2 linked regions of the Homo sapiens genome follow. The protein of the gene in region 2 interacts with the protein of the main gene of each other region in a pairwise test. Each region holds a gene or a part of one and is shown on either strand. Other genes may lie near its edges.

Region 1 (2,895 bases), on a different chromosome or scaffold from region 2:
TCATTTCCAAAATACTGTTTTTCAAATGGCTGCTTAAAATTGCCTGCAAATGAATATGCTATATGATTTGGGCAAAAACACAGCAGAATCAATGAGTAAATTTCTACCAAGAGTCGGGTTTGCCACAGAGATGTGAATATTAAACTAAACTATTATTTTTTAAAGAATCCTCACATGCCTAGAGCATTCTGACCTCTTCTTGTTTAGAGTGATAACATTTTTTCCCAGACAGATGACAGCAACAAGATAGCTCTACTTTTTTATATGGAAATAACATTATGTTACTGACAAGGTCATTTTCTACCAGAGACAATTAGAGGACTGGTACTTTTCCTAAGTTGTGTATTACTGAGTCTTGGAGTCATCTCTGAGAGCAAATGTATGTTCCTGAAAAGCTAATTTTACACCTCATTTACTGTAGATAACAGAACAACCTCAATTTTTCAAATTTTTGAAGTTTTATTTATGGGGCTAGAATTCCCATGCATAGAGAATATGTGTAGGGAGCCAGAAACTCTTTCTATGAAATGCTATACAAATCTTTCCATATGTGGGTTCACTATCATCCTTCAGTTTTAGCACTGGCATTTGCAAAGCCAGAACAATAACTGAAGAATGTACAATAAAAACTAGAATGCTGGGGTCCCACTTTTTGTTCTTACATTTACTGCTGACCCAGGTATCTTTGGCCCAGTCACTTAACCTCTCTGTGCCTCAGTTTCCTCATCTGCAAAATGGGGTTAAAATGCTTTTTCATAAAGTTTTATTTGCAATTTTAGAACAAGAGGTGCTTAAAGTAGCACAATGTGCTTTGTAATTATTACAAGTGCTGTATTATTTGACTTTCTTGTGTTGTTGACAAAAAGATTCCCTCATGTAATAAAATAGTGCTTCAGTTTGGTTAAATTTAAGCACTATAGCACTGAAGCTTGCTTATCAAGCTACTTGGGACATTATTAGCAATAAAAATTGAGAGATTCAAAACCAGGATCTTTAATAATCTATAGGAAATAGATCATCTCATGCTATTGAACAAGATAGAAGAGTGTGTCATTTCTATGATAAGCATCTCCCAGCTCTCTTGATTGCATATGCATGCCATCATACAGAACCCCACTTTTACCACAGGAGAGCCAGTCATTAAACAAAGGCTTGGAGCAAACTGACAGTATCACATAATTAGCTTGATTATCTTTTATTCTGGAGGAAAGCCAGGTGGTATGCCCTACTGGGAAGATACAAAACAGACTATCCTGCTGTATTCTTTTTTTTTTTTTTTTTTGAGATGGAGTCTTGCTCTGTTGCCCATGCTGGAGTGCATTGGCACAATCTCGGCTCATGGCAAGCTCCACCTCCTGGATTCAAGTGATTCTCCTGCCTCAACCTCCCTAGTAGCTGGGATTACAGGTGCACACCACCACACCTGGCTAATTTTTGTATTTTTAGTAGAGACAGGGTTTCACTATGCTGGTCAGGCTGGTCTCGAACTCCTGACCTCAAGTGATCTGCCTGCCTCAGCCTCCCAAAGTGCTAGGATTACAGGTGTAAGCCACTGTGCCCGGCCTCCTGCTGGATTCTTTATTCAACTAGGTAGGTTCCAGATTAAATATGAGCCATATGCTCATTAGGCAAGAAATGTGAAAGAGGGTGCCTCTACAGTGTTGGTGACCCAACACTAGCCAACTTGAGTCAGAAAATATGGAAGAGGATAAATTACTCTCACATATCTAAGACTTTTCCATTTTTCTTCACTTTCTGTTGCAGGGCCCATATGAGTAAATCTATATTCCGTCTGCTCCAACACACACCTTCCTTCTCTTAATTTTGCTTTCCCACCCACCAAGAAATTTGTAAGTCAAAATTTATTTCCATGAGTAACTATTTCTAAATGATTGAAAATTTTTGAAAAAGTGGTATGGTTTATATACCTAATCTGCTTATCTGCTATAAGTCATATGAGAACAACAGCTAGGATGATTGTCCAAGCAGCTTTAGATGTGTTTAGGGCCAGGCAAAAGGTTTGCTTGTTTTTTCTTTTTGCTTAAGATCTGGGAGATTAGCAAATTTCTCAAGACTATAGACTGAACTGTAATTTTTACCAACTCTTGCTCATGAGCCTCAAAATGAATATATCCTTGAATAAAGTATAAATATTTCAATAGATACATCTCTCTATTATCCATTTTCACAATTATAAAAGCATCAGCAAAATTGTGGATATGTGTTCCAGTCACTCATGGATCCATGGAAATGGACCGTGTTTAAATGAATGCTTCCCTTGGATGGGATGTTCAGCAATAGCAAAAAAAAAAAAAAAAAAGTTATCAATAACTGAGATTTCCTGTGGCCCCACTTCTGCATCTGTACTACCGAGATGCATTTGGCTACTGAGTTTGTAGCAGTCAGAACAGCATTCTTCCGGGTTCATTAACTTAATTTTTCTCAATAAAATATTCATACCCTGGAAAATAAACATAACTGACTACTAAAGATAATTTGAGATAAATAAAAGACCCAATTTAAATAGTTATTCAGGATAGAAAAATTTCATGAAAGAGGGGAAAAACATAGAGAGACTATCTTTGACTATCATACTTAAAAAGCATCTATTACTAAATTGAATGTCAAACTTTTCTTTAATGCCACCCTACTTTTAGGAAATAGAATTTGCTGAAAAAAATTACAACCCTTCTGACTTATGCTATATAAATTAAATTATTACCAACAGTTAGGTTTTAGGGGTGGAAGAATAGATCTTGATTTAATTTTTTTTTTTTTTTTTGGCCCACAAATAACTGCTCATACAGGTTGTATGTGTCTTCCCAAGTCCATAAGGTAGAGCTGATATAGAAGGCCTGGGTTATCACTTAGGTAGAGAGCAAATGTGTTCTCCAC
Region 2 (3,500 bases):
CATTAAAAATACAAAAGCAAAACCAAATTTAAACAAAACAAAACAACCCAGGAAACTTGAGAAGTAGATGTAGATTAAATGAATTTCCTTTAGATAGGTCAACATCAATGCTGTGGGCTTTCCTAGACTCTATGGAAATTCTTGACTAGGAGAATCTAGAATTATTAGATGATAATGTCCAGAAATACCTAAAAGAACTGAAAGCATTTATTCTGAAAGACCTCTTTCTAGCAGAAGGCCAAATAAAATTTTCTATTCCCTTGTTTATTCAGGATTCTTGGGAACTGAATTATTTCCAGTAAATAAATTTTCTAGACAGTGGAAGCTTATTCCTGTAACCACCATAACATTTTGCATTTTAATCATTTTGATATAATTCTGTCTGGTGTATGCTGCTTAGTTTATGGCTTTCATACAGAGTTACATTGAAAACAATTCAGCCAATTTGCTAGGCCTTGAGTCGTCTTCATTGATATGTTGTTGTTTAGTTTTTTTTTTTTAGCTCTGCCTAATAATCTCAGTACCATTTGCCTTCTAAAGATGCAGACAGCTGTACGCTTACATAGGTCTTTTAACTTTTCATTTTTTTTTCTCTTGTTTTTTTTTCTCACTGCCAGGGTGTGTCCAGTTTTACTTTTTATTACAGAAATGTGCATGATTGCTTTCCCCATCCCAAAACACCTTTCTAATTTATTAACTTACAAATTTTATGTCCCAGGAAACCAGAAACCCAAGCCTGTTACTATTTTGTGTAAGGAAGATTAATAGGCATTGAATAAAGTCATGTACTTAGTAATAGGTTTTTTGACCATTCAAAGCCTTTAAAAATTTACTTCCTGGTTGCAGGCTGTTATTTGGTAGGTGTTTAACTCTGGGCAAAATGCCATTTTATTTATAAGCTACAGTGCCTATGATTTTCCATTCTGGCATTGGTGCCTTCCTGCTGCTCCCAAATTAAGAAGAGAAATTAAGTTAAAAAAATCACATGACCTCTGTACAGTTGGTAAAAGTTTTGTAAAATGGAATTTGGATCTTTTAAATAGAAGGAGATGTAAAATACTGTATTCTTAGATATCAGTTTATAAATGTTTTTCCATTTTTATTACAGAGACATATTGATGTCTTTGACTGTTGGAAACCTTGCAGAGCAAGAATTTGTAACCATTGCACGTCACTACCGTGTGCCTGAGGGCACATGTTCAGATATGGATTTCTTAATCGCACTGGCCCACGAAAAGTTCAAGAAAAATATGTTTGAGAATTTCGACACTTTCATTTATTCCTGTGTGTATGAAGATCGAGAAAAGTAAGCTTTTGTTTTATTGATTCTAATCATTTACATTTCTGTGAACCTGAGTAATGAAGGAATTTCTATTTTATCAAAAAGTGCAAAAAGAAAATAGACATGTGTCATCATACTCATACTCTACTATTTAGCACAAACACCTTAAATCATTTTCGGAGAAGTATTTAGGTACAGATATTTCCCAGTGATGGAGAGCTTGTGTGTGTGTGTGTGTGTGTGTGTGTGTGTGTGTGTGTGATATGGCATCTGGCCCTGTCGCCCAGGCTAGAGTGCAGTGGCGCAACCTCGGCTCACTGCAACCTCCACCTCCCAGGTTCAAGAGAGTCTCCTGCCTCAGCCTCCTGAGTAGTTGGGACTACAGGCTCGCACCACCGCACCCAGCTAATTTTTTTTTTTTTTGTATTTTTAGTAGAGACAGGGTTTCACCATGTTGGCCAGGCTAGTCTTGTTGACGGAATAGGGGAGGCCCTGTATCTTTGAAAGAATAGGCTTCTCCCTTGCATGTTCTTTTCATTTGTTTCTAGAAGCTTTCAACTGAAGCATAGTAAATCAAAATGTTAGGAGGGTTAATTCTGAGATGTCGTCTTTTTACATTATTTTAGTACTGATGGGGATTTATAAATGTAACTTTTATAATAAATAGAAAATGGAATTTTCAAGCAAACATTCTGTAGAATTTCTTTGAAATTATTTCTTCTTGAAAATAATGAAGTTCAGTATAAGCTATTTCTTATACATTGATTGTGTGCGTGTTGAGCTTCATTAAGTCATTGTTACATACAACTGGATGCAAACAACTTAATGTGTTTTTTTTGCATTCATCTTACAGACCTTATACAGTGGGGAGAAATATAAATTTACTGATTTCATCTGGAATTAGAAAAATCTTAGTTCTTGCTCTAGCTTCTAATCCGTATTGCTGCACACCACTGCCATCTCTCTTCCTTGTGACTTCTTGCCTTATCCCCAAACTTGAAGTCTGAACCCAAGTGGCCAACTGCATTCCCTGAATATCTGTGTAGGTCCCATAGTTTGTCTTAGAAATAATCATTTTTTTTATTAATCCATAATGCATCCTCTTTGAGTTTTTATAAAGATGGTATTTTTCCTTGACTCTTTAAGCTTTCCCAAGCTTCCTAGAAGATGTGTGGCCTGAGTTTTGCATGGCCCTGGCCCTGCCTTCCACCCTGGTGTTGCCCCCTTCCCCAGAGTGAGAAGTGTGGCCCTCCTTCATTCAAGGAACACTTCTTAGGAACAATGGGGCTGCTTGACCAGATAGCCTGAGGTTCTTCCAGATCCATCAAGCTTTGATTCTAGATATAAACATTCTCATTGCAAAGAAAAGAGCCAACTTTCTTTCCTGTTGGTTCTAATTTTGCCCGATGCCTGGAAAAGTGTTGGCTGAATGAGAACATTGGACAAGAATGTCTTTGCCCCCATAAGACTGGAGAAAATGACTTTTGGGCTGCTCTAGAGAAAACTGCTAGCATCTGAAAAAATTGAAGTGAATATTGAGGCCCCAGCTGGGGCTTCCAGGTGATAAGGTTTGGGTCCAAGGAAAAGAACAGAAAAACACCCTCAAGTCATATCATACTTGTGTTGGAGGCTCTAGATGCCTGTCAAATTAAGAGATGTTTTCAAATATCAGAACCATTTTTGACTAGTGGTCAAGAATGCAGATCAATTACTTAGAGCAACACTTGTGGCTGTAGCCTTAATAGGCTGTACTGTCACCAACCAAGAATCTGCATCTTGAAGGAAAAGCCTTTGTAAGGATGGAGTCTGGTGGCCTCTGAAATAGAAAAAGTTGATGAAATGAAATGTGACTGTTCTTCCTTATTGTGAATTCCAATACCAATTTTCATACTTCCATGTGTACATTCTCAGGAAACATCACAAATGTATTTTCTTTCCTATAGTATGTAATTATTACTAAAGGTATACAAGGTATATAAAAGCTCATTTACGTTGTTTTAATGCAGAAAAAATGTATTACCCACCAAAGACATTAAAAGGCTGTGCAAATCCTCCAGATTACCTTTGAGTGATGATCTTCTAGAATCCTTATTGTCAAGGTAAGTTAGAGTTCCACTCTTGATAGGGATTGTCCTGCATAGTTTTATTTGGGGGACCATTCCTGGTTTTACATCTCCCTTTAATTACCCTTGATTTACCCTTAACTGTTTTGATTATA

Evidence for each region.
Region 1: the proteins of EFHC2 (region 2) and JAKMIP2 interact in binary tests that used the Homo sapiens proteins (3 or more experiments, as listed by UniProt).

Annotation. Positions count from the first base shown.
Region 1 is NC_000005.10:147,587,834-147,590,728, reverse strand, and holds part of JAKMIP2 (janus kinase and microtubule-interacting protein 2), read left to right. Parts: 3' UTR 1-2,895.
Region 2 is NC_000023.11:44,176,173-44,179,672, reverse strand, and holds part of EFHC2 (EF-hand domain-containing family member C2), read left to right. Parts: intron 1-1,108; coding exon 1,109-1,306; intron 1,307-1,464; coding exon of another isoform or gene 1,465-1,466; intron 1,467-3,288; coding exon 3,289-3,381; intron 3,382-3,500. UniProt on the Homo sapiens protein: Microtubule inner protein (MIP) part of the dynein-decorated doublet microtubules (DMTs) in cilia axoneme, which is required for motile cilia beating.